Regions from separate parts of the Homo sapiens genome. Here region 2 is linked to region 1. The links come from fine-mapping of genetic effects on plasma protein levels. Region 1 holds a variant in brackets. A gene starts in the other region. All regions are shown on their forward strands.

Region 1 (5,370 bases):
GTTCCTTTTTCTCCACAACCTCATTAGCATCTGTTTTGTTTTTGTTTTTTGCTTTTTAGTAATAGCCATTCTGACTGGTGTGAGGTGGTATCTCATTATGGTTTTGATTTGCGTTTCCCTAATGATCAGCGATGTTGAGCTTTTTTTCATAAGCTTGTTGACTGCATGTATGTCTTCTTTTGAAAAGTGTCTATTCATGTCTTTTGCCCACTTTTTAGTAGGATTGTTTGGTTTTTTTTCTTATAAATTTAAGTTCTTTTTTTTTTTGAGATGGAGTCTCACTCTGTTGCCCAGGCTGGAGTGCAGTGGTGCAATCTCGGCTCACTGCAAGCTCCGCCTCCCGGGTTCTCACCATTCTCCTGCCTCAGCCTCCCGAAGTTCTTTATATATGTTGGATATTAGACCTTTGTCAGATGCATAGTTTGCAAAAGTTAAGAAAATCAGTGTTATTTTAAAGGTCTCAGCACAGGCCGAGAATCCAGCCGGAAGTAGCGGGTGGTGCTGCGCCGCAGAAGGGCAAGGTGAAGGCGAAGCGGGCTCGGAAGACTAGGGCTCCTCAGGTAGTAGAATGCAGCGGCCGGCAGATGGCGTCACAGCGGCGGAGGCCATGGCCCTGCGCAAGCGCATTCGGCGATGCCAGGGAGGGCGAAGAAACCCAGCAGCGGGAAGCCGCCTACCGGTGGGCTAGTGCGGCGGGGGAAGGGAATCGGCCTGCATCCGAGACTCCGCCGCTGTGGCGTGGGACCTCCCCTAAGGAGAAGTGGTGCAGGAGGAAGTGCGTGGGCCAGCGCAGGCAGAGGCTGCCAGGGCGAGGACGACGATCAGGGAGTTGTCCAGCAGGGTCACCAGATGTTTGCAGAGCACTGCCCAAAACAGAAGGCCCCGGACGGAACCAAAACCTGAGAGCACCAACAAAACAAGCTCAGTCATGCTGTGCCATTGCCACCGCCATGTCCCCAAGGCCAGACTGGAGGACGGGGCCAGAGGAGGGCTCGTGCTGCCCCAGGAAGCATCCAGGCAAAGACAAAGGCCGCAGCAGGAAAGCTGTGGGAGAGGCCACAGGAACAGCCCAGCTCTCCTTCCCGCCCAGAAAACTCCTCTGAACAGGAAGATTAGCCAGGGGAGTTGAGGGAAAATGGCAGGACCTTCCTCAAGGCTGGGGACTTAACGGACACCAGGGTGGTTCCACTCACCCGAGTTCTGGGCTCTAGGAGCAAAGAGCTGGGACCAGCGGGACAGCTGCCTTTGAGAAAGTGGTTGAGAATATGGGCAGAAAAGTGGGTGAGCAGACAGAATAAAGCTGACAGGAGATCAGAAGAAAAATGGATCCACCATGAGGTGCAGAGTGAGTGGGAGTGAGAGCAAGAGTGAGAGAGAAGACAGGATCAAAGACCACGGATAAAGGCCTGGTGGGGCTTTACCTTCAGATGGGGCCCCTCCTGGGCAGCCCTCGCAGCACCTCAATCTCCCCAAGAGCCTAGTTCGCAGAGCAGAGAGTGGGGAGGGAAAGTAGGCAAGGCAAGATGAAGAAGGGGGAATAAAGTTTTGCCCAGGGACCAGGGAAAAGGAAGTGACTTTCTCCTGCCTCATCACTGTGCCTAAGCTCCTAGGTCTAGAGTCTCCATCCCAAACAGTGGAGAGACTACATGAGGAGGGGGCTGGGATTTATTTGCGGTCCGTCAGCAAGGCCTGAATGAAGCTGGGCTCAGAAACCAAGTGTTTCAATGCCTTGGCCGATTTCTATCTGCTAAACTGCCCAGTCCATTGCCCAAAGGGCTGCCTTCTGCCTTTGTGGCCCATGCGTAGAATTATTCCCTAGCTTAGCTGCCTTCTTCTTTTATATATATATAATTTTTTTTATGAGACTCTCTGACACCCAGGTTGGAGTGCAGTAACACAAACACAGCTCACTGCAACCTGAAACTCCTGGGCTTAAGCGATCCTCCCACTTCAGCCTCCCAAGTAGCTGACACTACAGCACACACAACCACATCTGGCTAATTCTGGAAAGCACTTTTTTTTTTAATTTTTTTAGTATTTATTGATCATTCTTGGGTGTTTCTCGGAGAGGGGGATTTGGCAGGGTCATAGGACAATAGTGGAGGGAAGGTCAGCAGATAAACATGTGAATAAACGTCTCTGGTTTTCCTAGGCAGAGGGCCCTGCGGCCTTCTGCAGTGCTTGTATCCCTGGGTACTTGAGATTAGGGAGTGGTGATGACTCTTAAGGAGCATGCTGCCTTCAAGCATCTGTTTAGCAAAGCACATCTTGCACCGCCCTTAATCCATTTAACCCTTAGTGGACACAGCACATGTTTCAGAGAGCACGGGGTTGGGGGTAAGGTTATAGATTAACAGCATCCCAAGGCAGAAGAATTTTTCTTAGTACAGAACAAAATGGAGTCTCCTATGTCTACTTCTTTCTACACAGACACAGTAACAATCTGATCTCTCTTTCTTTTCCCCACATTTCCCCCTTTTCTATTCGACAAAACCGCCATCGTCATCATGGCCCATTCTCAATGAGCTGTTGGGTACACCTCCCAGACGGGGTGGCGGCAGGGCAGAGGCACACCCCACCTCCCAGACGGGGCGGCGGCTGGGCGGGGGCTGCCCCCCACCTCCCCGACGGGGCGGCTGCCGGGCGGAGACGCTCCTCACTTCCCAGACTGGGCGGCTGCCGGGCGGAGGGGCTCCTCACTTCTCAGAGGGGGTGGCCGGTCAGAGACGCTCCTCACCTCCCAGACGGGGTGGCGGTGGGGCAGAGACACTCCTCAGTTCCCAGACGGGGTCGAGGCCTGGCAGAGGTGCTCTTCACATCTCAGATGGGGCGGCGGGGCAGAGGCGCTGCCCACATCCCAGACAATGGGCGGCCGGGCAGAGACGCTCCTCACTTCCTAGACGGGATGACGGCCGGGAAGAGGCGCTCCTCACTTCCCAGACTGGGTGGCCCGGCAGAGGGGCTCCTCACATCCCAGACGATGGGCGGCCAGGCAGAGACGCTCCTCACTTCCTAGATGGGGTGGCGGCCGGGCAGAGGCTGCAATCTCGGCACTTTGGGAGGCCAAGGCAGGCAGCTGGGAGGTGGAGGTTGTAGCGAGCCGAGATCACGCCACTGCACTCCAGCCTGGGCAACGTTGAGCACTGAGTGAGCGAGACTCTGTCTGCAATCCCGGCTCCTCGGGAGGCCGAGGCTGGCAGATCATTCGTGGTCAGGAGCTGGAGACCAGCCCGGCCAACACGGTGAAATCCCGTCTCCACCAAAAAATACGAAAACCAGTCAGGC[G/A]TGGCGGCGCGCGCCTGCAATCCCAGGCACTCAGCAGGCTGAGGCAGGAGAATCAGGCAGGGAGGTTGCAGTGAGTCGAGATGGCGGCAGTACAGTCCAGCCTCGGCTCGGCATCAGAGAGAGACCGTGCAGAGAGGGAGAGGGGTGAGGGGACAGGGGAGAGGGGAGAGGACTTTTTAAAAATCCTTTTGTAAAACAGTGCTAATCTTCAAAGAAAACCACTGAATGAGAAACAGGCCTGACTTGTGGGAGAACTTCGCAACCCAGCTGAGGGGTTCAGCCCACTCCCTAGCTGCTGCAAAAGATTTCAATATTGTCTGTCCTTTAGAAATAGGAAACATTTTCTTAGATCTGAGTTGGGGCAAATGACATCTACTGCAGCAGGGGATGACAGAGGTGACACAAAAGAAAGTATTTCTCAAGCACTAATGGCTCAATGAATAAAAAATTGTAGGTCCTTAATATGTGATATGGTTTGGCTGTGTCCCCACCCAAATCTCATCTTGAATTGTGGTTCCCATAATCTCCACGTGTGGTGGGAGGGACCCAATGGGAAGTAATTGAATCATGGAGGTGGTTTCCCTCATGCTGTTCTCATGATAGTAAGTTCTCACAAGATCTGATGGTTTTATAAGGGGCTTCCCAATTCACTCGGTTCTCATTCTCTCTCCTGCCACCATGTGAAGAAGGATGTGTTTGTTTCCCCTTCTGCCATGATTGTAAGTTTCCTGAGGCCTCCCCAGTCATGCCGAACTGTGAGTCAAACCTCTTTCCTTTATAAATTACCCAGTCTTGGATATGTCTTTATTAGCAGTGTGAGAACAGACTAATACAGTAAATTGGTACCACACAGAGTGGAGCACTGCTGTAAAGATACCCAAAAATGTGGAAGCAATTTTGGAACTGGGTAACAGGCAGAGGTTGGAGCAGTTTGGAGGGCTCAGAAGAAAAATGGAAAATGTGGGAAAGTCTGGAACTTCCTAGAGACTTGCAGAATGGCTTTGACCAAAATGCTGATAGTGATATGAACAATTAAGTCCAGGCTGAGGTGGTCTCAGATGGTGATATGGTTTTGTTCCTGGACCAAACTGAGGGTCGAGCTGCTATTTCTCGTGGCCCAATAATGAGATGCAGAGGAACTGGGGAGCAAGAGAGTTTTTATTTCTGTAGCCAGCTACTGGGAGAAGGCCTGGAAATTATCACCAGACCAACTCAAAATTACAAAGTTTTCCAGAGCTTACATGCCTTCTAAGCTGTATGTCTACATGTAAGTGTATATTTATCTAAACACATAAGTGATTAACTTCTTTTAATCTATAACTAAGATCTGAGTCCTGAAGACCTTTCTCTGGAGCCTCAGTAAATTTACTTAATCTAAATGGGTCAAGGTGCTGGGGTGATTACCCTTATCTTGTCTCCCACTAAATCATGGAGGTTTGGGGAGTTCCTTCAGACCCCCAATAAACTTGTTTGTGGAGGCCTGGGGAGTTTCTTCAGACCCACAATAAAACTTGTTTAATCCTAAATGGGTCCTGTTAAGAATTCCTGTTATTTTGTCATGCATTAAGGCCCAAGAAAGGCGTAGGCAAAACTCTTGACGGGCTACTGTTACATCCCAGCCTTTGTATAAGGGCACTGGCTTTTAATATTTAACTTAACCACTCAGTCAGTACTGAAACAGTTGTTATGGAGGCCTGCATTAGTGAGACCTGGCCTGCCACAGTTTGGCTGTGTCCCCACCCAATCTCATTTTGAATTGTAGTTCCCATAATCCCCACATGTTGTGGGAGGGACCTGGGGGGAAGTAATTGAAACACGAGGGCAGTTACCCCCATGCTGCTGTTCTCATGATAGTGAGTGAGTTCTCACAAGATGTGATGGTTTTATAAGTGGCTCTTCCCCCTTTTGCTCATCACTTCTCCTTTCTGCCATCATGTAAAGAAGGACATGTTTGCTTCCCCTTCCACCATGATTATAAGTTTCCTGAGGCCTCCCCAGCCACGTGGAACTGTGAGTCAATTAAACCTCTCTCCTTTATAAATTACCCAGTCTTAGTCATTTATAGCAGCATGAGAACAGACTAAT
Region 2 (5,339 bases), not on the chromosome of region 1:
TAAAGCCTTGGGCCATATCGAGTAAGGTCAGGAAGAGGGCGCAGATGGGAAGCAGGTGGGCTGCCATGGCACGGGACTGGTCGAGGACAACCTGGCCAGGGGAGGCAGAGCTGAGAACAGGTTGCAAAGTCTCCGATTCCCCCACTGCTCAGGGCTGGGGGGCTGAGCCCTTGCGCATTAATCCACCGCTGCTCTGGTTTCTGTTAAACATTGACCTGCAGGGCTCCAGGAGGGCAGGGGAGACGCATGGAGGGGAGCATGGCCACTGGAGGGCACATCCGAGTTGCCTCTCAGACCAGGCCTCTGCCATCTCCCACAGGACTTGCTCTAGCCTAAGCTCGCCCACCCCTGCTTCCCCATGAGCCACTGAGGCCATGACATATGTTCTGGGAAGAGTGGCTGACAGCCAGGCCCTCAGCCCCCAGGCTGACCCGACCAAGGGGGGGAGGCCTTCCTGTCTCTTCCACCAGAAATCCTGGCAGCCACTGGAGGAAGATCCAATGGCCTCAGTGACCAAGGACAGGTCAACCCAGCCCTCCTGTACACCCGCCAGTCTGCCCGCTCGTCCCTGCTGACCTTGGGGCTGAAGGGCCTTATCCTCCAAATTTCCTGACCCCAGGATGGGGGCCTAAGCAGGGCCTGGCCAGATTCCACCCCAGCTGCACCAGAGACTCCTGGAGGAAGGAGCCGCTGCTGGAAATTCTGAGCTTTTGTAGGGGGTCACCCCACCCAGGCCAGGGGCGGGCCAAGGGGCGGGCCTTGGATTAGGAGGCCAGGCCAGCCAGGCATCAGGGCTACCTCTGAATCCCTGGCAAAGGGATCTTGGTTGGGGGTGGGGCTGGGCCAACAGTGGCCCCTCCCACGCTGTCAGCACTAGGGCAGGGCTTTGTGGCCTTACCTAGGCTGGAGGAGGTGGGCAGGGGCAGACCCTGCTGGGCAGGCCTGTTTGTGACACTGGAGACCGGGTTCTTTCGTGTCTTGTGCTCAGGGAGTGTTCTTTGTCCACGTGGCTGCATCTGACATTGATGGGCCCTAGGCACTTTACTTTCGTGGATCTTTTCCTCCTTAAAAAAAATATTTTAAAATATGGCCAGGCATGCCAGGTGCGGAGGCTCACGCCTATAATCCTAGCACTTTGGGAAGCCGAGGTGGCAGATCACGAGGTCAGGAGATCGAGACCATCCCGGCTAACATGGTGAAACCCCTTCTCTACTAAAAATACAAAAAATTAGCCGGGCGTGGTGGCAGGCGCCTGTAATCCCAGCTACTCGGGAGGCTGAGGCAGGACAATCCCTTGAACCCGGGAGGCAGAGGTTGCAGTGAGCCAAGACTGCTCCACTGTGCTACTATACTCCAGCCTGGGTGACAGAGAGCGACTCCATCTCAAAAAAAAAAAAAAAAAAAAAAATATATATATATATATATATATATATATATATATATATATATGGCTATAGTCTTAGCACTTTGGGAGGCTGAGGTGGGAGAATTGCTTGAGCCCAGGAGTTCGAGACCAGCCTAGGCAATGTAGCAAGACCCCATCTCTACAAAAAAATTAAAAATTAGCTGGGCATGGTGGTATGTACCTGTAGTCCCAGCTACTTGGGACACTGAGGCAGGAGGAGTGCTTGAGCCCAGGAGGTCATGTCTGGGTTACACTATTATATATTAATTATTAATATATTTACATTTATATTCTTCTTCTGATTAAAAAAACATTTTGTGGGCCCCTGAAAGTACTGTGGCCCTAGGCCTTGGGTCTATTGTGCTTAGTGGATAAGTCATCCCTGTTGTAGGGACCTGTTTCTGAAAGGCACTGTGTTCATGAAGTCAGGGCTGTGTCATCACCCTTTGTATATGTGCTGGGTTAGTGACTGTGTCTTTGTGAAGCCCCATTTAGTGACCATCTGAGCCTCTGCACAAATTCCAGTGGCAAGTAGGTGTGAGTGTGGAACCCAGTGCCTGGGACTGGGTGTGTGTGAGCCCTGCTGTCTTGTGAGCATGAGATCCTGTGTTTGTGTGACCATGCATATGAGCTGTCAGTGAGCACATGCTTGTTCATTCATTTGTGGTTTCACTTGTTCAATATGTGAAAGGAAAATATCTTGGGCCCCTTCAAGCTGGGAACCGCTCAGGACAAATCTGCCTCCCATTCTATTCAAGTCATCCTTTTGCTTACAGACATAGATGCATATTATGATTGCCTCCATTGCCTCTTTTGGAAAGACTACCAGAAACTCAAAAGAATGCAACCATCTGTCTGTCACCTGCCTGTGACCTGGAAGCCCCCAGTGGGGGGCCGTGCTTTGAGCTGTCTCCACCTCTCTGGACAGAGCTTATGTACTTCTGTTTTTTTTTTATTTTTATTTTTTGAGACGGAGTCTCGCTCTGTCGCCCAGGCTGGAGTGCAGTGGTGCGATCTCAGCTCACTGCAAGCTCTGCCCCCCGGGTTCATGCCATTCTCCTGCCTCAGCCTCCCGAGTAGCTGGGACTACAGGCGCCCGCCACCACGCCTGGCTAATTTTTTGTATTTTTAGTAGAGACGAGGTTTCACCGTGTTAGCCAGGATGGTCTCGATCTCCTGACCTTGTGATCTGCCTGCCTCAGCTTCCCAAAGTGCTGGGATTACAGGTGTGAGCCACCGCGCCTGGCCTAATTTTTTTTTAGATGAAGTCTCACTCTGTCGCCCAGGCTGGAGTGCAATGGCATGATCTCGGCTCACTGCAACCTCTGGCTCCCGGGTTCAAGCGATTCTCCTGCCTCAGCCTCCAGAGTAGCTGGGACTACAGGCGCGTGCCACCACACCCAGCTAATTTTTATATGTTTAGTAGAGACAGGGTTTCACCATATTGGCCAGGCTGGTCTTGAACTCCTGACCTTGTGATCTGCCCACCTTGGCCTCCCAAAGTGCTGGGATTACAGGCTTGAGCCACCACGCTTGGCTAAGGTACTTCTTACGTATTGATAGATGTCTCATATCTCCCTAAAATGTATAAAACCAAGCTGTGCCCGGAACACCTTGGGCACATGTCATCAGGACTTCCTGAGGCTGTGTCTTGGATGCATCTTCAACCTCAGCAAAATAAACTTTTTAAATTAACTGAGAGCTGTCTCAGATTTTCTGGGTTCACATTTGGTAACTATGGATGGATTCTGTGTGGAGATGTCCTTGACTTTTGACTAATTGCCTATCTGTGCTTGGTACCAGCAGGAGCTAACTTTATGGCTCAAACCAATAGGACAATTTGCTGAGGTCTGGGAGCACCCCCTCCAGAGAATCCTTGATTTCTCAATTGGTTGAGATCTAAAGTTTATTTTGCTGTACAACTCTTTTTTTTTTTTTTTTTTTTTTTGGAGTTTTACTTGCTCCCAAAAGGAAAGCAAGTTTTTCTGCTTCCATGACGATGGAAGGCAGGTAACTCCTTTATGGAGTTTGAGCTCGCTTCCAACAGGGAAAATTAGTTTTTTTTTCCTGCTTCTGGGATGGTAGAGAGCAGTCTACAGCCTGAGACCCATCACTAGGTAAGAAACTGGCTTGGGATTCTGCCTTGCAATTTCCTTTAAATGACTAAAGTTAGCATTTAACAACCAGCTGGTGTTAACTTCTGCTTACACTTACAGCACTCAGAAATCATATACTTTGTGTGATCATTGTTACTTTAGCAGCATTTTGTTCTAGCTGAAATATGGTAATAAGATTAAAAAAATTTTTTTTGGCTGGGAGTGGTGGCTCACACCCGTAATCCCAACACTTTGGGAGGCCGAGGTGGGCGGGTCACCTGAGGTCGGGAGTTTGAGACCAGCTTGGCCAACATGGTGAAACCTATCTCTACTAAAAATACAAAAATTAGCCCGGCATGGTGGTGGGTGCCTGTAATCCCAGCTACTCAGGAGGCTGAGGCAGGAGAATTGCTTCAACCTGGGAGGTGGGGGTTGCAGTGAGCCGAGATCATGCTACTGTTACTCCAGCCTCAGTGACAGAGCAAGACTCCATCTCAACAACAACAACAACAACAACAAAAACACAAAAATTATCCAGGCATGGTGGCCCACACCTATAATCCCAGCTATTCAGGAGGCTGAGGCAGGAGAATCACTTAAACTTGGAAGGCGGAGGTTGCAGTGAGCTGAGATTGCGCCACTGCCCTCTAGCCTGGGTGACAGAGCAAGACTCTGCTAAAAAAAAAAAAAAATAAGCCGGGTGCAGTGGCTCACACATAATCCTAGCACTTTGGGAGACTGAGGCAGGAGGATCATTTGAGGTCAGGAGTTTGAAACCAACCTGGCCAACATGGCGAAACCCTGTTTCTACTAAAAATACAAAAATTAGCCAGGCTTAGTGGTGTGTGCCTATAATCCCAGCTACTTGGGAGGCTGAGGCAGGAGAATCGCTTGACCTGGGAGGCAGAGGTTGCAATGAGCTGAGATCATGCCACTGCACTCCAGCCTGGGTGACAGCAAGACTCAGTCTCAAGAAAAAAATAAAAAATAAAAAATAAACCAAAATAGGGCCGGACGCAGTGGCTCACGCTTGTAATCCCAGCACTTTGGGAGGCCGAGGCGGGCGGATCACAAGGTCAGGAGATCAAGACCATCCTGGCTAACATGGTGATACCCTGTCTCTACTAAAAATACAAAAAATTAAGCTGGGCGTGGTGGTGGGCGCCTGTAGTCCCAGCTACTCGGGAGGCTGAGGCAGGAGAATGGCGTGAACCCGGGAGGCGGAGCTTGCAGTGAGCGGAGATCATGCCACTGCACTCCAGCCTGGGTGACAGAGCAAGACTCCATCTGAAAAAAAAAAAAAAAAAAAAAAAACCCAAAATAAATAAAAAGGAGGGATGTTCAGAACAAATTGGAAAGTCCAACCATGTCATGAACAGTCAGTGTAAGTCACAAAAAACCCAAAAACTTTTTTTTTTTTTTTGAGACGGAGTCTCGCTCTATCACCCAGGCTGGAGTGCAGTGGCGCAATCTCGGCTCACTGCAAGCTTGCCTCCCGGGTTCACGCCATTCTCCTGCCTCAGCCTTCTGAGTAGCTGGGACTACAGGGGCCCGCCATCATGCCTGGCTAATTTTTTTGTGTTTTTAGTAGAGACAGGGTTTCACCATGTTAGCCAGGATGGTCTTGATCTCCTGACCTCGTGATCCACCTGCCTCGGCCTCCAGAAGTGCTGAGATTACAGGTGTGAGCCACCGTGCCCGGCCAAAAACCCAAAAACTTTTATATAATCAAGTTGTCGTATACTTTTTTCTTCAGGGTAGAGTCTTGCTTTGTTGCCCAGGCTGAAGTGCAGTGGTGCAATCTTGGCTCACTGCAACCTCTGCCTCCTGGGTTCAAG

Direction of the effects. Positions count from the first base shown, and alleles are read on the strand shown. Strength reflects both the effect of a copy and how common the allele is.
As copies of A replace G in region 1, the plasma level of the protein whose gene starts at base 685 in region 2 goes down (weak association).

What was found. PIP is the posterior inclusion probability: the model's chance that the variant is causal. Protein levels are from antibody-based Olink assays in UK Biobank. Linkage for the fine-mapping came from a reference panel and not from the study's own genotypes, which makes the PIPs less certain.
Region 2: it holds the start of HYAL1, and the variant in region 1 is fine-mapped to the plasma level of the HYAL1 protein (UK Biobank, PIP above 0.99).

The regions. Positions count from the first base shown.
Region 1 is chr12:55,645,734-55,651,103 of GRCh38, forward strand. It overlaps the pseudogene OR10AE3P. Among named protein-coding and RNA genes, the nearest start is that of OR10P1, 12 kb to the left of the region's middle. RefSeq lists an enhancer at 444-903. The variant G/A (reference allele first, on the strand shown) is at 3,286.
Region 2 is chr3:50,302,890-50,308,228 of GRCh38, forward strand. HYAL1 (hyaluronidase 1) reads right to left here and starts at 685. Exons shown (of 4, transcript NM_033159.4): 1 at 577-685; 2 at 1-91. The coding sequence starts at 67. RefSeq lists enhancers at 169-1,103, 921-1,090.